4 linked regions of the Homo sapiens genome follow. The protein of the gene in region 3 purifies or fractionates together with the protein of the main gene of each other region. This does not show direct contact. Each region holds a gene or a part of one and is shown on either strand. Other genes may lie near its edges.

Region 1 (3,647 bases), on a different chromosome or scaffold from region 3:
CATTAACAATAGAAATAGCCACAGACTCACAAATATCTGGATGTTTGCTTTTGTCAAATCTAGCTTAAAATAGTGTTTTCTATTAGTGCTGTCATGCAGACCTAGATGTTCAGTCCAACAGCTCTCTAGTTAATAAGCCAGTCTCTGCACTAGAACTCTACTGCGTTACACTCGGGGACGGAATTGTCTATAAGGGTGCCACTCAGAGTGTGGCATGAGGACCAGCAGCATTGGCAGTACCAGAGAACTAGCTAGAAATGTAAATCCTCCAGCCCAAAGTCAGCAATCTCTTTGGGGCAGAGTCAAGGAATCTGTTTTTAAAACTCTCCCAGTGATTCTCATGCATGCTGAAGTTTGAGAAGCACTGGAGTTGTTGCGCCGTGGGCAGCTACAATTACTTGAATTGTAGACATGGCCCACAGAGTTGGGGAGTTGGTAGGGTCCTAGGTGGCCCAACCCTAGTTTATTGGTGGCAAATAAAATGGGATGAGAAGGTACAGGACAGACTGATAATCACGGCAGGTGTGGACCTACTTATAAAGGCTTCTTTTACCTTCTAGGTCATCGATGGTTTTCTCCAACTTTGCCACAGACCTCTCGGCAAACTCTGCTCGGGTCTCAGCCTGGGGGTAAAGGCAGGATGGGAGAAATGGCAAAGAATTAGGCCCTCCCACAGACTACTGCCTAAGTCAAGCTTCTTGTCCATCCCAACCCTCAAGTGTCCTGCCACAGGCCGTCTCTGGCAAGGATTAGGGTGGCTTGAGGGGAGACTGGGAACTGGAAGAGGACTCTCACCTCCTTCAGCTTCTCCTCCAACAGTTTGATCTCCTCTTCATATTTATCTTCTTTGGTGGAATACTTTTGGGGACACACACACGCCATCAGTACAGCGCTACCACAGATCCTTCATTTCTCCATTGTACCCCGTAGGCTCCTGGTCATCTTGCCTCCGTTGAACACCCAGCCCCTCCCTGCCTTGGGCCCCTCACCTCCCTCCCCTGTGGGACCCCATCCTCACTGCCCCTCTGCTCCCCTCTACCTTGTCCGCCTGGGCCTCCAGGGATTTCAAGTTGTTGGTAACAATTTTCAGCTCCTCCTCTAGGTCCCCACATTTACTGCAGGGGGTGTGTGGCGGGGGGGGCAGGGTGTGAGGGCACAGCGAAGCCAGACAGTGGAGATGGCACAGCAGGGGACGGGTGGAGGAGAGAAGAGAAGAGCAAAGTTGTGAGAGTGACAGCAGGCAGGGCTCAGAAGCCCCAGGCCCTTCCTGATCCCCAGCAGCTGAGAAAGAGCAGCCTGCGGTGCTGAGACGGAGGGAAGGTGAGCTGAGAGAAGGCGCCATTGCCCAGAAAGGTTCAGAGGGGTCACTACCTCCTCCTCTGAGGCCATCAGGGACTTGAGGGCCTGGTCCATGGTTCGAAGTTCCTCCTCCAGCTGTCTGGCTCGGCTGGGGGCAGCGGGCAGGGGTCAGAGAACAGGGCCTGTCCCTACAGCCCCAAGCCTAGGATGCTACCTTCCCACTGTGTGGAAGGCCCCAGGGCCAATGGGCTCACTTGTCACCCCCGGGTATCTTTACCTCTCGGCCACCTCAGCCCTCTCCTCCGAGCGCTCCAGCTCTCCTTCCAGGATCACCAGCTTCCTGGCCACCTGTGGGGAGTGAGAAAGAGAGGGTAGATCAGTGGAGAAGGACTGGGCATGTTGCAGGCTGGGCAGCGAGCAGGCAGAGGGGCAAGGCTGTCACCTCTTCATATTTGCGGTCTGAATCCTCAGCGATGTGCTTGGCCTCCTTCAGCTGCATCTCCTGCAGTTCCATCTTCTCCTCATCCTTCATGGCCCGGTTTTCGATGACCTTCATTCCTCTGAAAGGCAGGGAGAGGGTGAGCGTAGGGTCAGGACCAGCAGAGACAGGCTCCCTTCTCCCTCCCGGACCATCCTCCCCGAGGCCCCTGACCACCTCTCGCTCTCATCAGCCGCCTTCTCGGCCTCCTCCAGCTTCTGCAGGGCTGTAGCCAGGCGCTCCTGGGCCCGGTCCAGCTCCTCCTCAACCAGCTGAATGCGGCGGTTCAGGGAGGCCACATCTGCCTCAGCCTGTGGGTCAGAGGTCAGGGGTCAAAAAGGCCTTGTTAGCCTTGGATAAGGATCAGAGAGGCTCCAGAGGATGGCGAGATTCTTCTCAGAAAGAACTGAGGCTTCCTGGTTTCTAGACATTCTATGTGATTTTTCCCCAACCAATCATCTTCTGCCCAGACTGTGCTCCAGTAAAAAATGTGCATTCAGGCCGGGCATGGTGGCTCACGCCTGTAATCCCCGCACTCTGGGAGGCCGAGGCGGGTGGATCACCTGAGGTGAGGAGTTTGAGAGCAGCCTGGCCAACATGGTGAAACTCTGTCTCTATTAAAAATAAAAAATTAGCCAGGCATGGTGGCGCATGCCTGTAATCCCAGCTACTTGGGAGGCTGAGGCACAAGAATCACTTGAACCCAGGAGGCGGAGGTTGCAGTGAGCTGAGGTCGTGCCACTGCACTCCAGCCTGGGTAAAAAGAACGAAACTCCATCTCAAAAAAACAAAAAAATACATGCATTCCTTGCTTGACAAGCTCCGCTCCCCTGCTGCAGGGCCTCTCCTGCACTGTGCACAGTTAGTCTCCCAAAGGTCACCTGCACACAAGTCCTCCTGTTCCCTGTGGGAGCACTTCAAGTGCTGGGGCCAGGTCTGATGCAGCTCTGATTCCTACACAGCAAAGCCTGGCCCAGGTAAGGGGATGGGAGGAGAATCAGGCCAACCAGACATCACTGCTGCTAAGAATAGCCCGTCACAGAATCAAGCTCAGTGATACTGGGCATGGTGGTGCATGCCTGTCATCCCAGCTACTCCGAAGGCTAAGGCGGGAGTTCAGCTTGACCCCAGGAGCCCTGCCTGGGAAACATAGCAAGATCCCATCTCAAAAAAAAAAAAAAAAAAAAGTATCAAGTTCAGTGATGTCATCTGTCATCAGCTGTAAGGCAGACTCCCAGCAAGAAGCCCAAGAGGCAGGCCTATAAGGAATACCCATGGCTGTAGCAAGGGGCTCCCTGCCAAGGCCAGCAGAGAGCTGGGGGCAATGCAGGGGCAGTGTGAGGGATGTCTACTCAGCCCCTGGGCTTGCAGTAGGAGGCAAAACCATGGAGGTTTTGGAAAAAATCCATAAAAACTGGTCAAACACTGAGAAAAAGGGCAGAGCAAGGCGAGCGCCAGTAAAGGAAAATGAGAGGAGCAGGGCAGCCACGTGTTAAGAGCATCGGCTCTGAGTCAGATTGTCTTTGAGCCACGGCTCAGCCACTCAACACCTGTGTAACTGTGGGCAACTTATTTAGCCTCTCTAAGCTTCAGTTTCCTCCTTCACAAGTTGGAGTTAACAATAACAGTTCCTCCTTCTTAAGGCTGTTCTGAGATAATCCACTGCTTTTAATACTCAGTTAATCAACAGGACCTTCGGTGAGACTCATAAAACTAAACAGGTTCTCTTACTCCATGCTAGATCCACTGAATTGGGATGTGTAGGGCGGGGGCTTGGGAATCTTCTCTTTTTTTTTTAAAGCCCCCGAGTGATTCTGATGATAAGCCAAGTTTGGGAAATTGTAAAATAACATGCAGAAAGCACTGAGTA
Region 2 (8,407 bases), on a different chromosome or scaffold from region 3:
CTTGAAAGAAGAATAAGACTTCACTAGTTGGAAGAGGGAGTAAAGGCCTGGGCAAAGTAATTTCAGGAATAAGAAAGACCAATGGTGCAAATCCAACAGAAACGAAACAAAACATGGTATATTAAGGGAACCAGAAGATTTGCTTGTGGAAAAGTAGATGAGGCAGGGAAGATATTGGGAAAGGTCAAGTATGTCATTGCTGTGTTTGGATTTTAACTTGAAAATGATGGAAAACATAAAAATCATTGGAGGACTTTTGATCAGGGAACTGACTGAATCACGTTGCCTTTTAGAAAGAAAAATGTGTGGAGGGTATATTTAAGTTTGGAGATATCCGGATGCCATCCAAAGTAGAGATGATAACAGTGGAGATGGAGAGAAGGTGGCAGATTCAAGAGATATTTAGGTAGTAGAATTGATAGAACTTGGTGATCTAATAAATGCAGGGATGAGGGAAACTAAGTTGAGTGACTGAATGAATGAAAACATTCACCAAAATTAAAACCTGCAGGAAATTTGCGAATTTGTGCTTTGTAGACTTCCAAGTATTCTTTGACCAAACCACAGTTCGTAACTCATCAAGTGCTTTTATCTTTAAACCTGTAAATAGTCCATTTGGAATGAAATCTCCATAATCTGTCCATCTGGGGAGAAATGATTCTGTGAGCTGCAAATGGTGGTAATTACCATGGCATATTCCCATGGTACAGTGGAAGTTTTCCGAGCCCAGTTCCCTCTATTAAGGATAATGGAGTGGCAAGCACTGGGAATGTCTTCCTACCACATGAAGTTAATATCATTCTTCTCTGAACAGGCTTGTTTCTGGTGCAGGTGACATCAAACTCACCAAAGATGGCAATGTGCTGCTCGATGAGATGGTGAGCTGATGCTGCTGACTTTAATAAACCTTAATAAGCCTTAATTAGAAGCATAGTAGAACTTGTGTATCTTTAAGCCAAGGCTGTGAGCTAAATACTGCAGTCTTGAGATATGCTGAAGACTGTTGAATTAGACCTCAATAAAAAAATTTTTTTGGCCGGGTGTGGTAGCTCACTCCTGTAATCCCAACACTTTGGGAGGCTGAGGTGGCCAAATTGCTTGAGCCCAGGAGTTCAAGACCAGGCTGGGCAACATGGTGAAAACCGTCTCTACAAAAAAAAAAAAAAAAAAAAATTTTGCTCAGTGTGGTGACATACGCCTATAGTCCCAGCTACTCTGGAGGCTGAGGTGAGAGGATCACTTGAGCCCAGGAGGCCAAGGCTGCAGTGAATGAGATTGTGCCATTGCACTCCAGCCTGAGTGGCAGAGTGAAACCCTGTCTCAAAAAAAAAAAAAAAAAAAGTTTTTTTTTTTGGCTGTTTCCAAGTCTTTGTATACTTATACATACTTTGTATACTTAGGCATACTTATAAATCAATAATATCTTTTAAGGGCACTGCCTTATGTTCTTTGTAATTATGGAAAAATAAAAATATCCTTTGCAAGTTTAATACATGTATTCATTTTGAGATTGAATGATTTAATCTTATTTTAGAAATGTCATTGCATTCTGAAGCAAAGACTTTTATGAAATGTTCAGGCCTCATTACCTGTCACTTTTAAAATTTTGGACTTGACATTTAGGTATTGATAATACAAAACTTGTAAACTTGTAGAATGAAGCTTATTTCATTTTTTAATTTTGCTACTGACCCCTAGGTTATCTTGCTTTTGGTGACCTACTTCCTTATCTCATCCTGTCTTTTTAAATCTGTTGCTTGCTTTTTCCAGCAAATTCAACATCCAACAGCTTCCTTGATAGCAAAAGTAGCAACAGCTCAGGATGACGTCACAGGAGATGGTACTACTTCAAATGTTCTAATTATTGGAGAGTTATTAAAACAAGCTGACCTGTACATTTCTGAGGTATTAGAATTTCACAGTTTATATGTTATTTTGAATGGCAAATTATTTTTTTAACTAGTAAAATGGTTGAGTTTTAGACAGTTAATTTTGTTTTAATTAATTAATTAATTAATTTTGAGATGGAGTCTCACTGTGTCGCCCAGGCTGGAGTGCAGTGGCAGAATCTTGGCTCACTGCAACCTCCGCCTCCCAGGTTCAATCAATTCTCCTGCTTCAGCTTCCCGAGTAGCTGGGATTACAGGCATGCGCCATCATGCCTGGCTAATGTTTGTATTTTTTTTAGAGACAGGGTTTCACCATCATGGCCAGCCTGGTCTTGAGCTCCTGACCTCAGGTGATCCACCTGCCTGGGCCTCCCAGAGTGCTGGGATTACAGGCATGAGCCACCGTGCCTGGTCTAGACAGTTAATTTTAATTAAGATATTCTTGGACAATTATAAATGGAAATAATAATGAACTTTGTTGGCCAAAATAATGCCTTTCGTTGGAATTATATACCTCTTTTAAAAATGAAATATTTAACGGACCTAAAAAAGTAAAAAATTACCCATGTATCCATGGGTAATTAAGAAAGAAAACACCATAGATAAAGTTGAAACCAAATTATGCACCTTTATAAAACCACTGGAGAAAAATTATTGAAGGTTTTACTTATTGTGAATTTACCTTCCTTTCTAGTTTCATTTTCTTTATAAATCATCTACTTCAGCCAGACTCCTCCGTTCACTGGCCTCTGAAAACATCATGTACATTTTTACCTTTCTCTAATTAAGTATCTCTTTTCTCCATATCTGAATGTTTTCTCTCTTTCAGGGACCATTTCAGCAAAGAGTAACCTAGTCAAAATGATTCTCTGTGTTTCGTTTAGTATTGGGAATTTTCTATTAATTCAGTACTTGCAACTTAGGATGCTTTTGGCTGTAAACAACTTGACTAAAACTCACTTGAACAATAAGGAAATGATTATCTCCCATAATAGAAAATTGAGAGATAAGGGAGACTGTCAGGTTGTGTGATAACAAAATTCAGTCATCAAGTACACAGGTTCTTTGTCTCTTACCTCTTCCACTCACAGTGCTGTTTCATCCTAAGAGTATTTCCATCTTGAAAGTAAGAGGCCAGGTGCGGTGGCTCACACCTGTAATCCCAGCACTTTGGGAGGCCGAGGCAGGTGGATCACCTGAGGTCGGGAGTTCGAGACCAGCCTGACCAACGTGGAGAAACCCTGTCTCTGCTAAAAATACAAAATTAGCCAGGCGTGTTGGTGCACGCCTGTGATCCCAGCTACTCAGGAGGCTGAGGCAGGAGAATTGCTTGAACCCAGGAGGTGGAGATTGCAGTGAGCCAAGATTGTGCCATCATACTCTAGCCTGGGCAACAAGAGTGAAACTCCATCTCAAAAAAAAAAAAAAAAAATGGAAAGAAAAAGGAAAGAAAAAGAAAGTAAGACTGGCTGGGCACAGTGGCTCATGCTTGTAATCCCAGCACTTTGGGAGGCTGAGGCAGGAGGATCACTTGAGCCCAGGAATTTGAGACCAGCCTGGGCAACATAGTGAGACCCTGTCTTTAGAAATAATAAAAAAAAATTAGGCTTGGTGGCATGCTGCATGTGGTCCTGGCTACTTGGGAGGCTGAGGCAGGAGGATTGCCTGAACCCAGGAGGTGGAGGCCGCAGTAAGCCATGATTGCACCAGTGTACTCCAGCCTGGGTGACAGAGTGAGACCCAGTCTCTAAAAGAAAGAGAGAGAGAGAAGAGAGGAGAGAGGAGAGAGAGGACAGAGGAGAGCGAAGAAAGACTGTCAGAGGAAATTAGGCAGAGGGCAAGATAAAGCCATTCAGGAGGCTTTTCTTTAGTATGATTGGGCCAACTTTAGTATTATGTCCATCCCAAGCCAGTAACAGTTTTTATGGGAATTGACTTAGACTAATCAGGATCCACTCCTTGAGCTGGGGATAAGATCAGCTTTCTCCAAAGCACAAGTGGGAGAGGGAAACCCAAACTGAATTAGGGTTGGGTTAGGAAGAAAGGAGTTTGGCAAGGGTGAGATGCTAACAGACATTATGAAACTCTGTGGTGGTGCAGTGATAGAGCCGGGCACAGTATATGATGGAATCACTGAGGCTGGAGGGACGTCCTAAACTAGCCTGAAGTAGTCAGGAAGAACTCTCTGGAGGAAGTAAGGCCTGGCCTAAATCTTCAGGATGAGGAGGAGTGAACCAGACAAAAGAGCAAGGGGTGAGGAGAATGGCTTTCCAGGCAGAAGGAACAACATAAGCAAAGTCACAGAGAAGACAAGCAACATGGTGTTGTATGAAGCTACAAGCATTTTGGTGTTGCTGGAATTTCAGGTGATGTGAACAGTAGTGGAGAAGAGGCTGGAGAGGGAAGTGGGAGCCAGATCAGAGGGCATGTAGTATGCTAACCAAGAAGCTTAGATTTCATCCAGTGGTATTACAGACCAAACATAGAAACATACTAATGACTGATATGGTCAGGTTGGCATTTTAAGTATTTGGGGGATGGTTTTAAGGGAGTCTAGACCAGAGGTTTTCATGATAGTCTGGATGAGAGATTGTGGGGTCCTAGCTTGAAGACATTTTTGAAAATGGTTAATAACATAGGCTCTAAAGTCAGGTCTCATGGGTTTAAACAACCTGGTTTCACTTCTTATTATCTTGGTGATCTAAGGCAAATTACATTATCCCTTTAAGCCTCGGTCTTCTCATCTGTGAAATAGGAAAAATAATAATAATAATACCCACTTCATGATGTGGCTAGAGAATTAAATAACTTGTGTAAAACTCTTAGTCATGTCCAGCACAAATACTCAATGTCAACTTTTAAAGATTATTAAGGATTGATGTAAAGAAAAGTAGTAAGGGAATGAATTAGACCAAGTGCTAGCTTTCACAAAGTTTGTGTATTATTTTATGGAACAAAAAATACTATTAAAATATTTTTTCATAATTTTAGACCTATAGAAAAGTTGCAAACATACTACAAAGAATTCCTGTATACTTTTTACCCAGATTCTTCAAGCATTTTCATTTCTCTCATTGCCTGCTTGCCCTGTTCTCTTCCTTAGTATCAGTGTACTTATTCTTTTCTAAACTGTATGTTGCAGACATGATCTAAATATTTCAGTGTATATTTCTTAAAACCAGGGAATTATATAATTGCAGTATAGTTATAAAAACCAGGAAATTAATAATAACATTAACACATTGATACATTACTGTTATCTAATCTGCATTCTATTCAAACTTCACCACTTATATTAATAGTGCTCTTTATAGAAAAAAAAGATCTAAGTTCATGCATTGCACTCAGTTGTCGTGTTCCTTTAGTATCCTTTAAGCTAGACTAGTTCCTGAGCTGCCTTTTATGCTTCATGATATTGCTACTTTTAAGCCATTTATTTTGTAGAAAGTCCCTCAGTGTGGATTTGCCTATTTCCTCAATTAAACTTAGGTTACAGATTGTTGGCCAAAATACCATAGAACTGTTGTGTTCTACTGAATGCATCATGTCAGCAGGCATGTGATGCCTGTCTGTCTCATTATTGTGATGTTAACTTTGATCACTTGGTGAAGTGGTAGACACCACAGTGTTCTATCTGCCACTTTTCCCCAATTCAGTGGTGGTTCTTTTCCTCTGCATTGAAAGGAATCTTTTTATGTGTGCCCATTCAGAAGGGCACCACATAACAACAATGTAGTCATAATTTTTGGAAATAAAAAGGACTTCTGTAATTTTTAATACTAGACTTGAAGCCTTACTGTTAAGGTTGAGATTATTTCAAGTATGAAGCACTAAAATGACTTTTATAAATTATGTACACTTATATTTCATGGCATTAATGTGAGTAACTTTTTTTGAACATAATAATCAGACAGGTTGGTTACTTTTACATTGGGTGACTTATTTTATAATTTATAATTTTATGTTGATGTAACAGGGCCTGCACCCTAGAATAATAGCTGAAGGATTTGAAGCTGCAAAGATAAAAGCACTTGAAGTTTTGGAGGAAGTTAAAGTGACAAAGGAGATGAAAAGAAAAATCCTCTTAGATGTAGCTAGAACATCATTACAAACTAAAGTTCATGCTGAACTGGCTGATGTCTTAACAGAGGTATGTTATTAAACTTTTGCATTCAGAACAAATATAGCCTAATGCATGGTGATATTTTTCTTTTTCTGTAAGATAATCAAGTATTTCATGTGGTTTTTTGGGCATAAAATATGGAAGACAGACAATTATTGTATAGGCCTAACTGTAGATTAGATTTGACTGGTCAGAACAGTATTTGTAATTTTCAGAAGTATCATACTAGGCCTTTTTTTAAACGTGACTTGAAAGGTGGGAGAGGTTTGGCTGCCTGCAGATCATCTCCTGTGGAAGCTCTTGAATAGTATACTGGTCTTTTTAAATCTAGCAGTCCATATTTTATTATGTGAGGTGACACACAAGATAGTTGTTTTAGCAGTGTACCTTGTAGATAAGGTTACCAATATAATGAAATGTGATATGATATATTAATATATTAATATTCACATATTGGAAATGTATGTTTGTTTAGTTTATTTCTTTTATTAATTTATTTGAGACAGAGTCTTACTCTGTCACTCAGGCTGGAGTGCAGTGTCATGATCTCAGCTCACTGCAACCCCCGTCTCCCAGGTTCAAACGATTCTCCTACATCAGCCTCCCGAGTAGCTGGGATTACAGGCGCGTGCCACCACGCCTGGCTAATTTCTGTATTTTTAGTAGAGATGGGGTCTCACTATGTTACCAAAGCTTGTCTTGAACTCCTGACCTCAAATGATACACCCACCTCGGGCTTCCAAAGTGCTGGGATTACAGGCATGAAGTCACCACATCTGGCCAGTGTTTTGTTTATTTCTAAAGGTAGAATATATGTTATATAGGCTGGGCATGGTGGCTCATGCTTGTAATCCCAGCACTTTAGGAGGCCGAGGTGGGGAGACGACCTGAGGTCAGGAGTTTGAGACCAGCCTGGCCAACATGGTGAAATCCTGTCTGTACTCAAAATACAAAAATTAGCTGGGCATGTTAGCAGGCACCTGTAATCCCAGCTACTTGGGAGGCTAAGGCAGGAGAATCACTCTGGGAGGGAGGGGGAGGTTGCAGTGAGCTGACATCATGCCATTGCACTCTAGCCTGGGTGACAGAGTGAAACTTTGTCTCAAAAAAATATATATATATATATATATATATTTTATATAAAGACAAGATTGGCTGGATATTTTGGGAAGGCTTTTATCAGGTGGCAATGATTTGATATCATTATTGTTTTTCAGCTTTGTAATTTCTGAAACTTGAATATATTTGTTTACCAGGAAGAATGATAAATTCTTAGGAAACAAATTCACAAGACATTGACATACAAAGCAGAATACTACCTTAATAATTTACTTTGAGAACTACAAATGCCAAATGTACTGGAATACTTGAGTTGTTTCTGATCGATTCTCCTTACCGTTAAAAAAAAACAACTTGGGAAATCAGATTAAGATCAGACAATTTCTTGATGAGCAGAGTCAGAAGAAAGGCTCTGCTGTGTTTTCTGCTGTTAGAGTACTTGAATGGCCCCAAATCTTCATGCTGCTAGGGCACCCATTCTGTTTTAGAGTTACAGAAACAGTGATATTCTCACTATCCAATGGCCTTTGTCCTATTTCTTATTTGCCTCTAAAATAAAATATTATGTCACCTCAGGCAAAGTTTTCTAAGATACAGTTTTTTCTGCTTTATGTATATTTTAGGGTAGTTATAACTTAGCCCTTAATTTCTGCAGTTATTTATTATTTTTATATCATTTTCTGAGCTAAGCAATAAGACGTGTTGTGCTATGCTTCTTAAATTGTATATCCCTGGTCATATGTGACAGAATAAATGAGACGTAGCTTTCTGGAGTGTCAATTTTACTTTACAATTTTGGGGGAAAACATTATTTTTACATTGAGATAAACATATTATGGGATGACATGGAAACTTTTCACGATAAAACATGAGACTTTAACGTTTCCTGTTATTACAGCCAGCAAATTGGAGCTATTACCTTAGATTACCTTTCCTTCTTTTCCATTAAGGTGTCCTTTGGTGGAAAAGTTTGGATAGTCTTGGTATGATAGAAAGAGTAGTCGCTGGGCAGTTAGGGAGCCCTGAATTCTAGTCCCGGCCCTGTTACTAGCTGTTAGATCTTATTTAAAAACTGTGACTTCTTAAGGTCTTATCTCAGTTGCCTTATCTGTAAAATAAAAGGTTTGGACCTAATGATCTCTGAAGTTTCTTTAGACTCTAAAGTGTCTGTTGGCATTGGCTATTGTTAGCATCCATAGTAAAGTGGCACATATTGGTCTTGCCCTAGGTTTTGAATCCTGAAGGCTTTTATCTCCTTAGTCTGGTGATAGATTGTTTGGGCCCTTGGTTTATTTTAGTAGTCCAAATAACTTAACTGTTCTCATTCATTTCTCTT
Region 3 (8,216 bases):
CCTACTTATTTTAGAGCTAAATCTGTGACTCAGATAGAGTAGAACACAGTTCTCTTAGTCTGTCAAACCATCATTTATAGGGCAGATAAATAAGAATGCCACAAATGTCGCCGGGCCCGGTGGCTCACGCCTGTAATCCCATTTTAGGGGGCCGAGGCAGGCAGATCACGAGCTCAGGAGATCGAGACCATCCTGGCTAACACTGTGAAACCCCGTCTCTACTAAAAATACAAAAAATTAGCCGGGCATGGTGGCACGCGCCTGTAGTCCCAGCTTTGGGGAGGCTGAGGCAGGAGAATTGCTTGAACCTGGGAGGCGGAGGTTGCAGTGAGCCGAGATCATGCCACTGCACTCCAGACTGGGCAACAGAGCGAGACTCCATCTAAAAAAAAAAAAAAAAAAGAATGCCATAAATGTGTCTTTATACATAGAATCTGGTACTTGAATTTCAGTATTATACAAAAGATATTATTACATTCGAAGCAGTTTCTAAGTATCTTCATTCAATCACTTAACAAGTATTTATTAAATATATACTGTGTATCAGCTATTGTACTGGGCTAAGTCACAGTGATAAACAAAAGAAACATAGTCCCCACCCCGTGCAGTGGCTCATGCCTGTAATCCCAGCACTTTGAGAGGGCAGATCACTTGAGGTCGGGAGTTCAAAACCAGCCTGGCCAACATGGTAAAACCCCATCTCTACAAAAAATACAAAAAATTAGCCGGGTGTGGTGGGAGACGCCTGTAATCCCAGCTACTTGGGAGCCTGAGGTATGAGAATTGCTTGAACCCAGGAAGCAAAAGTTGCAGTGAGCTGTGGTGGTACCAATACTGTACTCCAGACTGGGCAAAAGAGTAAGACTCCAACTCCAAAAAAAATTTAAAAAAAAAAAGAGAAAACAAAGATAGAAAATTGCTAAATATAAAATTGTTGCAATATTAGCACTTTAAAAGCACTTTTTTTAAAATGATGGGATTTGTCTTTGGACTATAAATTCCTTAAAGACAAAAATTATGCATGTAAGTATAGTACATATGTATTCCTATCATAGTAGACTGTGCTGTCCATAAATATTTTAAATCATTAATTAACTGCCAATTTATTGTCAAAGATTTTATCCATGTTTCCTGTTTTGACAGAAAATACATAATAGGCAAATATATTGATTATCACTTAAATGTAGTTGTATACTAACTAATTTAGGATTGGCCGGGTGCTGTGTCTCAAGCCTGTAATCCCAGCCTTTTGGGAGGCCGAGACAGGTGGATCACAAAGTCAGGAGTTCAAGACTAGCCTGGCTAAGATGCTGAAACCCTGTCTCTACTAAAAACACAAAAATTAGCTGGGCATGGTGGCACATGCCTGTAATCCCAGCTACTCGGGAAGCTGAAGCAGGAGAATCACTTGAACCCGTGCGGCAGAGGTTGCAGTGAGCCGAGATCGCGCCACTGCACTCCAGCCTGGGCGACGGAGCAAGACTCTGTCTCAAAAAATAATAATAATAAATATATAAATACATAAATAAAATAAAATAATAATAATTTAGGTTTGTCTTTTTCAGGATTCTGCTGGTATGTGCTATCCTTCAGCAAAGAATCATGAACAGACATTTTCTTACTTTATTGTGGATCCTATCAGGCGTCACCTTCATGTTTTATACCACTGTTATGGTGTGGGAGACATGTCTTAATGTTCTTTCAGATTATGTACCTCTACTATTTTGTATTTATCATTTTTCTATCTTAATACTAACTTATAGATAAACATATACTTTGCAAATTAATTCAAGAAAAATGTAAGGAGCCTACTTAGAGCAGAAGAAAGCAAACACCAAGATGCCTTTTTAAAAATTTGTGTGGAATACTAACCGGGGATCAAATTTCATCCATAATAAAATCTATACCAAAAAAGTTGTGGAATTTTTACAGAAAGTTACAAGGAATTAGAAATCTAGTTCATATTTGTTGCATTGTGATTCAAGTGAATCCTCAATTTTCCATGTATTTTAATTTATAAGCTAATTAATTATGGATTGAAAATGTAGCAGAAAACTAAACATGTCTACCACTGATCATTAATATGAATTGTTAGTTTATTTAACTTGTTTCATTTAATTACATTTCTTCATTGCACAAGCGTTTACATCTGTAAAGCTAGGCAAAGCATAACAATTCTTTTGCTTCATTTGTTCCACTTATAAGCCTCAGTAAAGAAGTAACGTTCTGGGGCCTGGCACGGTGGCTCACGCCTGTAATCTCAGCACTTTGGGAGGCCAAGGCGGGCGGATCACGAGGTCAAGAGATCGAGACCATCCTGGCCAACATGGTGAAACCCCGTCTCTACCAAAAGTACAAAAATTAGCTGGCTGTGGTGGTGTGTGCCTGTAGTCCCAGCTACTCAGGAGGCTGAGGCAAGAGAATCACTTGAACCCGGGAAGTGAGGTTGCAGTGAGCCGAGGCTGTGCCACTGTACTCTAGCTCTGGCAACAGAGCAAGACTCCGTCTCAGAAAAAAAAAAGGTTCTGAAAGTGGTTGTAAACTCTTGTATCACATAATAAATTAAAACTGCAGCTGTCCCACGGCTAATACAAGAGCTACATGTAAACAGAGAAAGTTGCCTGATGGCATTAGTAAGTCGTTCAAAGAGTGAGAAGCAGGTTATCTTAGTACTGTTCCTTATTTCATTCATAGAATGAATGTATAACCTAGATTGTTTTTGGTTTATTTTGATGGCAAAAATCATTGACATATATCCCATGGGTCATGGGAAGCCTGTAAGAAATGTTGAGGTTTGAGGAGGAGCAAGTTTGAAAGATGTGTTTCTGTGTTGTGGGATAAAGACGATAATCTTGGACTTGAACCTGGATTTGAATCTGGAATGCAGCTGGCAATTTGGGTATAGAGCTCAGGAGAAAGAGTATGTTTTACTTCTAATACCTAACACAATGACTTGGCATATTAAATGTTTATTGAATGAATAACTACTTTCTAGATATCCTCATAATACCCATAGATTTTTTTAAATTACATAAAAACATAAAATCAAGAACTGAAATGTCTGTTTGCTACCAGCTTTGCTGCTTACCTCACAGTTCCCTATGACCTGGAGACCCTTTCGATCAATCAAGTGGCCAATCAGTAATTCTTTTTGAATACCAATTCTGTGCAAGGCACTGGGCAGTTTACTTTGGGGAAACATACACTCCCTATAAACCTATTTAGGAAGGTAATCTTTAAGAGTGTGACTACCAATAGTGATTGTTGCATGAATTCAGAGATAGAAGAGATCACTCTGAACTAAGATAGGCTTAGTCTGGCTTCTATGGAAAGACTGGTGGGATATCAGTAATGGAAGAGAACAGCAGTTGAAGGGAGCACATGATGTGGCGAGGTACTCTGGGCTTGGCCCTTGGATGAAAGTCCAGAGGCGAAAGATGGGAAAGTGATACTGAGGAATTGCCACTATTTTTTCTCCGCTCTAAAGGTGGAGGTAGATAGGACCTTTGAGGAAAGATTGCTCCATTGTTTTGGAAAAATCATTTGATGACTCATTTGTGATTATGCAAATTATCTGTATTATAAGGCATAATAGAGTAGTGATAAAGAGTTTGGGCTGGGCTGTCAGGTTGCCTGGATTTTTTAATTTGCCATTACTTGCTGTGTGACCTTGAGCTGGTTACTTAACTCTCTGCGCCTTAATTGTCTTTTCTATAAAATGGAAAAAAATAATAGGACTACCTCGCAGGGCACGGTGGCTAACGCCTGTAATCCCAGCACTTTGGGAGGCCAAGGCAGGCGGATCACGAGGCCAGGAGATCGAGACCATCCTGGCTAACACAGTGAAACCCCATCTCTACAACAAAATAACAAAAAAAAAAAAAAAAAAAAAAAAAAAAGAAAAATGAGCTGGGCGTACTGGTGGGAGCCTGTAGTCCCAGCTACTCAGGAGGCTGAGGCAGGAGAATGGCATGAACCCGGCAGGCGGAGGTTGCAGTGAGCTGAATCGCGCCACTGCACTCCGGCCTAGGCGAGAGAGCGAGACTCTATCTCAAAAAATAAAATAAAAATAAATAATAATAATAATAATAATAGGACTACCTCATAAGTTCCCTTTTTTGGAAAATTGTATTAATTAATACATATGTTGGTCTTTGAATGATGCCAGGCACATAGTTTAAGTGCTCATGAATTTTGGCTGCATTCTCTACTGAGGAAATATGAAGAAAAAAAAAGAGAAACAGTTAACTGTCTGCATAATAATGTAAAAAGCTGTCTTCTTGGGGCCAGAATTGCTTTTGTATAGATTATTATTAATTGACTGAAGAGATGGGAAAATTGGTTTTTCCTCTTTGGAGGCCCCAGAGAACGTAGAGGTCCTGAGCACGGACTCCAGGGATTTCTTTGGCAGCATTTGTACACTTGGAACTATTTGCGCAGCTATTTGTTATAATTTGTTTAATATCTTTCATGAAAACAAGTACTGTGTCCATTTTGTTTACCTTTGTGTCCACAATGCCTAGAACTTGAAAGACAATACATGCCTATTCTCTGACTAAGTACTGTTGGTAGAGAGAAACTGGCCTTTGAAGTGCAACTGTGGAGACTGTGGAAAGCGAGGGAGGAGGAAAGGTTGGTGCTGAGAGTTATAGATCATCAGCATGGAAGCCTCCTCTGCAGGGGCTGAGCTGGTGGACTCTAGCAGCCTTCATACCTACGTGCCCACCTTAAATTTACTGTACAGTCATCCCTCTAGTTATACTTCAACCTTTTGTTAAATTTTGCAAACTATTATAGTCTGGATTCATACTGTAGTCTGGATTTAGCTGCCCAGCATGGGATTAGATATGCAGCCCAGGAACATGCCTGTGGCAAAAATTGTCCCTAGAGAGCAGCAGCCGCAGCCTGTAGAAGCCGGCTTTGTAAAAGCAAACTGTGATCAAGTGAGAGAAGAGGGGTTGTCTGGAGTGAGACAACTGGCCATGGTGACAAGTGACCACAGAATGGCTTTCTGAGACTTTCTGAGAGCATTCTTCAAAAATTCCAAAAGTATCTAGAACTAGAAATACCATTTGACCCAGCCATCCCATTACTGGGTATATACCCAAAGGACTATAAATCATGCTGCTATAAAGACACATGCACACGTATGTTTATTGCGGCATTATTCACAATAGCAAAGACTTGGAACCAACCCAAATGTCCAACAATGATAGACTGGATTAAGAAAATGTGGCACATATACACCATGGAATACTATGCAGCCATAAAAAATGATGAGTTCACATCCTTTGTAGGGACATGGATGAAATTGGAAATCATCATTCTCAGTAAACTATCGCAAGAACAAAAAACCAAACAACACATATTCTCACTCATAGGTGGGAATTGAACAATGAGAACACATGGACACAGGAAGGGGAACGTCACACTCTGGGGACTGTTGTGGGGTCGGGGGAGGGAGGAGGGATAGCATTGGGAGATATACCTAATGCTAGATGACGAGTTAGTGGGTGCAGCGCACCAGCATGGCACATGTATACATATGTAACTAACCTGCACATTGTGCACATGTACCCTAAAACTTAAAGTGTAATAATAATAAATTTAAAAAAAAAATTCCAAAAGTAACTTAAAGAAGAGGGGTCTTGCAGAATTGTAATTTGGACGTTAAAAAGAGGGACTTAGAGAAGTTGGGATATTTAGATCACATGAGCAAAAATAAATTCAAAGATACAAAAACACAAGGTGATTTCGGGGGACATGAGTACATTTGAGTAGTTAAAACTAATAAGTTCTGTTCTGGAGTTCTGGATAATAACAGGGAAGATAGATTACTGGGGACTTGGTCACAGAGCTGTGGGCACAAAGCTAAGAAATTTAAATCTTTTAAGTAGGTGATGTATAGCAATCATTAAGGACTTTTGAATAGGGGTAGTAGCATCATGAAAGTGATATTCTAGAAAGATTAGTCCAGCAGTGATAAATTGGGGTGAAAAAGTCCAAAGTCCAAAGATCAAATAGAGGTACATAGTAGTTGTCAAAGCACAGAATTAACTGAACTTAGCTCATAGCAATGATAACTTCTCAAGGCATCATGAAGTATGGGACAACAGAATGCTCGATAGAAAAAAAAAATCAAATATGGCCCAAAAAAGGGTAGCCGACTGTGTGAATTATTAAATTTTGGTGTTTGAGGTACTAAGAACTGGGAAGTGGGAACTGTGGTAGGAAGCTGTGGTCAGAGAAGGAAGCTCCCTTGTCCTGAGTTCTCCTTGTATTCAGATTCACAGGTCTGTCACCCTTGTTCCAACTCATCTGCAACCAGCATTCGTCCTTAAAACTTTGAAAACTGGTCTGAAGGTTCTAGAAACTCACTGGAGGCTTCTTAAGGAAAACTATCTACCCTGAAGGCTTCTCAGTCATCCAGTTAATCAACAAGAATTTGTAAAGAACTAACATTCATTCTCATGCATCCCACAGGTGCTTTTTTTTTAAGTCGGAATCTCGCTCCATCACCCAAGCCTGAGTGCAGTGGCACGATCTCAGCTCACTGCAACCTTCACCTCCTGAGCTCAACCCATTCTCGGGATTCAGTCTCCCGAGTAGCTGGGCTACACGCGCGCGCTACCATGCCTGGCTAATTTTTGTATTTTTAGTAGAGATGGAGTTTCACAGTGTTGGCCAGGCTGGTCTTGAACTCTTGACCTCAAGTGATCTGCCCACCTTGGCCTCCCAAAGTGCTGGGATTACAGGTGTGAGCCACTACGCCCGGCCCCACAGATGCTTATTGATTACCTGTTATGTCCTGGCCACTTTCGAGGCACTGCAAATACACCAATGAACAAAAATTTCTAAATTAGGGAGCTTACATTCTAGTGCCCATAACTGTGTTAGGTGCAGTGAGAAAGAGAAAGACTCAATTACTCAAGAAAGTTGGTGTTGCTGGAGACATAAGGCATTCATACATGTTAGTATTACTAATAGTACAAGACAGCATGTGAGTATCGGATGCCTAGCAGAGACCGTAATGGCAAAAAAACTTCAGGAGAAGAAATCATGCCTGCGCGAAGTAGTCAGGAAATTATTCAAAATAGATCTGGGAGTCCTATTAGATAATGTTTGTGAAGAAACAAAGAATGGGGAAAGGTACCTTGAAGAAAGGCGAAAGTTAAGAAAGATTAAACTGTTCCACAGGCAGAAGTATATTTCCAAAGAAACCTAAAATAAAGTTTTGTAGGGATTTCCTTGTCTTTCTCCCTTGTATTAACCAAATGGTTAAAATACTATTTGGCAACAAATCAGATTACCTATTTATTTCTATTTTATACTAGCAGCGTTGTCTGACATTAATGACAGGAACAAACTAGCATCCCTTGTAAGTCAAAGGGTGTGCTTATAGTTCTGGAAGTAGAAAGACAGTATTATTGGGTTTTTTTTTTTTTTTTCAAGACGGAGTCTTGCCCTGTCACCCAGTCTGGAGTGCAATGGCACAATCTCAGCTCACTGCCACCTCCGCCTCCCGGGTTCAAGCGATTCTCTTGCCTCAGCCTCCCAAGTAGCTGGGATTACAGGCGCCTGCCACTGCGCCTGGCTAATTTTTGTAGCTTTAGTAGAGACAGGATTTCACCATGTTGGTCAGGCTGGTCTTGAACTCCTGACCTCAGGTGATCTGCCCGCTTCAGCCTCCCAAAGTGTGGGATTACAGGTGTGAGCCACCACACCCAGCCTGTTGTTATGTTTGTTTCTAGTCAAAGTTAGTGCTTGACATGTCTTACTTTATTTAATCTTCTCAACTACCCTTTCAAAGTAGGTTAAAAGTCAGTAGAATCTTTGGGGTTATAAGTGAAAGAAAATTTCATCCAAATTGTCTTAAGCAAAAAGTGAATGTATTAGCCCACATAACTGAAAAGTCCCATAGTAGTTTGGGTTGCTTTTTGGCCTGATTTAATGCAAGACCCGTTTTCTCTCTCAGTTCATATTCTCTCTGTTGACTCCATTCTTAGTTTGTGTCTTTCCACGTACAAAAATGTTAGTATACTTGGCCGGGCACAGTGGCTCACGCCTGTAATCCCAGCACTTTGGGAGGCCGAGGCGGGCGGATCACAAGGTCAGGAGATCGAGACCATTCTGTCTAACATGGTGAAACCTCATCTCTACTAAAAATACAAAAAATTAGCCGGGCGTGGTGGCGGGCGCCTGTGGTCCCAGCTACT
Region 4 (3,676 bases), on a different chromosome or scaffold from region 3:
GGCCTCAAGCAATCCGCCTGCCTGGGCCTCCCAAAGTGCTAGGATTACAGGTGTGAGCCACTGTGCCCGGCCACAAAGAGGTTCTAAGGAGAGCTTGATGTGTTCAAAAGGACCCAGACCTTTCAGCCGGATAAAACAGTGTTAGTCTCATACTGGCTTTGGGCAAATCACTTTATGTCCCTGAGCCTTAGTTTCTCCAAACCAAGAGGACTCTGGGGAGTATTGTTGGTGTTAAAGGAACTGACACATTCCACTACTAGCCTGGCTTGGTTGCCCGCTAACCAGAAACTTCTACCTTCAGTGCTGCCGTGAGTGAATGCTGTTCATTCCCTTAAATGTCCCTGAGCACTCACTATGTGCTAGGCACCCTGCAGGTGCAGGAGACACCGCCTTTGTGGAGCTGATGGTCTAGTAAAGGGGACAGACAGTGAGCACCGAACAGATACAGATCATCTGTGATTTTGTAATATCCAAACTACAGCATCAGGTGGTGCTATGAGGAACAGTCTAGATTCACACACAGAATGTTGGGGGTGCCATTTTGGACAGGGTGGTAAGGGAAGACTTCTCCACATTTGATGAGATGAAAACGGGGAAATGGGGGCAGCATTCCTGCCCAAGGGAGCAGGAGATGCAAAGGCTGCTGTTTCAGGAGCCTCAGGGGTGCTGGTGCAGCTGGGTGGAGTGCCTTGGGGGAGCTTGGGAGTAGCTGAGGTCTGAGGGAGCCGGGGGCCATGCTGGGCTTCACAGGTCCTGATGTGGCCTCTGGATTCCATTCTTCATGTGATGTGAAGCTTTCATGGGGAGCAGATTGAGTAGGGACCTGATGTGATGTGACTTTTGATTGGAGAAAAATCCCTCTTTTTTTTTTTTTTTTGAGACGGAGTCTCGCTCTGTTGCCCAGGCTGGAGTGCAGTGGCGCAATCTCAGCTCACTGCAAGCTCCGCCTCCCAGGTTCACGCCATTCTCCTGCCTCAGCCTCCCAAGTAGCTGGGACTACAGGCACCCACCACCACACCCAGCTAACTTTTTGTATTTTTTTTTTTAGTAGAGACGGGGTTTCACCGTGTTAGCCAGGATGGTCTCGATCTCCTGACCTCGTGATCTGCCAGCCTCGGCCTCCCAAAGTGCTGGGATTACAGGCGTGAGCCACCGTGCCCGGCCGAAAAATCCCTCTTTTGAGTTTGAGTGGTGAGAGTGGAAGCCTGGGACCTCCTAAGAGACTCCTAGAGTCATCCAGGTGCGAGAAGGTGTCTTGGCCATGGGGATGGCAGAAGAATGGTGGGAAGTATCAGATTCCAGTTGTGTTTTGGAGGAAGAGCTCATGTGATTTGCTGATGGATTGAATGTGAGGTGTGTGACAGAGGAAGAAGAGTCAAAAAGGACTCTTAAGGTTTTGGTTTAAACAACAGTGGTGCCATTTACGGGGTGAGGGAGCCCTGGAAGAGGGGCACCCTGGGGCAGGGGGAATCAAGAGTTTGATTTTGCCTGTACTGTTACTTAATTATAAAAAAGAAAATCAGGCTAGGCATGGTGGCTCATGCCTGGAATCCCAGCCCTTTGGGAGGCTGAGGCAGGAGGATCACTTGAGGCCAGGAGTTCCAGATCAGCTCGGGCAACATAGTGAGATTCAGTCTTTAAAAAAATTAGTGAGGCATGGTGGTATGTGCCTGTAGTACTTAGGAGACTTAATGGGGTGATTGCCTGAGCCCAGAAGTTTGAGGTTGTAGTGAGGCTATGATCCCCTCACTGCACTCCAGGCTGGGTGACACAGCAAGACCTGTTTAAAAAAAAAAAAAGAAAGTAAGCTTAAAATCAATTTTTTAAACTTCGACATGTCCTGAGCAATTATATCTGAGATCATAGGTGCTGCTATCTGTGTAATTTATCTAAAGGATGTTAAAATAAATACATAGCCACTAAAATAAAAAGGTCCATGGGGGTACCACCTATACCCATTGCATACACCCAGCTGCTGCCCTAGCACATTGGAAGTGCCAACAATGATTATTAGCCCCTTTAAGAATGAATGAGGAGCTCTTTAGGATGACGACATGGAGAACCTTCAATGAAAACTCCGGTGGGAGAAGTGGGGGCCAGGAGTGGAGCTGGTCTCAGAGAAGTGGGTCATCCGGAAGGTTGGAGGTGGTGGGGGCATTGGGGCCTTGGAAGCTTTTTGGAGAGAAAGGTCTGCTGCTCCCCTGCTCCGAGCCCTCTTCCTGGGGTTGTGAGTCTCCCTTTCTGAGCTTCCTTTTTGCTTCTAAGGAATGTGGGTGCTTTTACCACAAAAACACTTGGCCTTTTCATAGCATAATTTGGTATTCAAGCTGTGGCCTGAGCTTGGAACCATTCTTTGTCCATTTCTGCTGCCCAGGACTTTGAGATGAGTCTGTGTGGGTACTTTGTGAACTATTATGTGACATGGACACATATATACATGAGGAGTGAATGCTTACATCATGCACAGGGTGTTTGTAAAGGCCTTGTTGGGTTAAATACTGTTGGATCACTGTAGAAGCTTTTCATACCGAAACATTAATTTTGGAAACTCCTTCACAAAATCAAATCAAAATTAGGTCTTTTGAAACAGGCTTCTTAACGTATTCTTGTGAAATTTCTCATGAGCAGTTCATTTCTCAGACATGGAAGAGTTAAGTCCTGCGTTCGCTGTTGTGTGTGTTGCAGTGGCTCCGCGATGAGGCTGTGCTGAGTGAGAGACGCCCCCTTCTCAGCTTCTCGCAGACTCTTGCTCCCTGCGCTCCAGCGCCGCTCACGGCTGGTGCTGGCAGGCCTGGCATTTGGGGGCGTGGGAGAAAGTATGCATCAGTGTGTGCAGGGGTGGAGGGGTGGGTGGTTTGTGTGAATAGAAAGTACATGACCTTTCTGAAAATTGTTCAGAAATGTGGAGGAAGGAAGCGAGAGACTTGGCAGTCCTGTAGGCTTTAATGGAATCAGCAATGGACGCTCGGTATGGCTAATCCTCGATGGAGATGGAAAGGGACGGGAGAACACGATCCAAGCCTACTCAGCTGCAGCAGCGTGAGTCCGCTGGGGAACACGGAGAAGACCAGATACTCTCACTCCCACTTGGTAGAACCTCCTGAGGTTCTCCGGCCACTGTAGTGAACCAGTGTCTGGCGAGCGCCCGAATTACGTGAGAAACTGCCCATGTGTCATTGGATCTAAGACACCAATGTTTTAAGGACACGTCAGTGTTTTGTCTATTGCTCAGAAAGAGAACTCACAGCTAATTAACTTGTAACATACCAACTCCAGAGACGTTAACATGTGGAAAATGTAGGTCTTCAAATCAGTGAAATAAGGTAATCTAATTAACAATACCAGGCTATAGCACAATGGTTGCCACAGGGCCACTTTGGGAGGCCAAGGCGTGTGGATCACAAGGTCAGGAGTTCAAGACCAGCCTGGCCAAGATGGTGAAACCACGTCTCTACTAAAAATACAAAAAATTAGCCGGGCATGGTGGCACGCACCTGTAATCCCAGCTACTCCAGAGGCTGAGGCAGAGAATTGCTTAAACCTGGAGGGGCAGAGCTTGCAGTGAGCCAAGATCGCGCCACTGCACTCCAGCCTGGGCGACAGAGTGAGACTGTCACCAAAAAAAAAAAAAAAAAAAAAGGAATCATTTGAGTGAAAGATAGTTTCTTGAAGATGG

Evidence for each region.
Region 1: the proteins of CFAP300 (region 3) and TPM2 purify together in Homo sapiens (affinity purification with mass spectrometry; 2 studies listed by BioGRID and IntAct, with this or other methods). This does not show direct contact.
Region 2: the proteins of CFAP300 (region 3) and CCT6B purify together in Homo sapiens (affinity purification with mass spectrometry, with the first as the bait; one large-scale study listed by BioGRID). This does not show direct contact.
Region 4: the proteins of CFAP300 (region 3) and TAB1 purify together in Homo sapiens (affinity purification with mass spectrometry, with the first as the bait; one large-scale study listed by BioGRID). This does not show direct contact.

The regions. Positions count from the first base shown.
Region 1 is NC_000009.12:35,683,693-35,687,339, forward strand, and holds part of TPM2 (tropomyosin beta chain), read right to left. Parts: intron 2,089-3,647; coding exon 1,955-2,088; intron 1,860-1,954; coding exon 1,742-1,859; intron 1,648-1,741; coding exon 1,577-1,647; intron 1,448-1,576; coding exon of another isoform or gene 1,116-1,447; coding exon 1,040-1,115; intron 859-1,039; coding exon 796-858; intron 624-795; coding exon 554-623; intron 1-553. UniProt on the Homo sapiens protein: Binds to actin filaments in muscle and non-muscle cells. Plays a central role, in association with the troponin complex, in the calcium dependent regulation of vertebrate striated muscle contraction.
Region 2 is NC_000017.11:34,952,058-34,960,464, reverse strand, and holds part of CCT6B (T-complex protein 1 subunit zeta-2), read left to right. Parts: intron 1-814; coding exon 815-878; intron 879-1,770; coding exon 1,771-1,905; intron 1,906-5,865; coding exon 5,866-6,039; intron 6,040-8,407. UniProt on the Homo sapiens protein: Component of the chaperonin-containing T-complex (TRiC), a molecular chaperone complex that assists the folding of proteins upon ATP hydrolysis.
Region 3 is NC_000011.10:102,081,506-102,089,721, forward strand, and holds the end of CFAP300 (cilia- and flagella-associated protein 300), read left to right. Parts: intron 1-1,565; coding exon 1,566-1,694; coding exon of another isoform or gene 1,695-1,767; 3' UTR 1,768-3,049; downstream 3,050-8,216. UniProt on the Homo sapiens protein: Cilium- and flagellum-specific protein that plays a role in axonemal structure organization and motility. May play a role in outer and inner dynein arm assembly.
Region 4 is NC_000022.11:39,402,780-39,406,455, forward strand, and holds part of TAB1 (TGF-beta-activated kinase 1 and MAP3K7-binding protein 1), read left to right. Parts: intron 1-3,676. UniProt on the Homo sapiens protein: Key adapter protein that plays an essential role in JNK and NF-kappa-B activation and proinflammatory cytokines production in response to stimulation with TLRs and cytokines.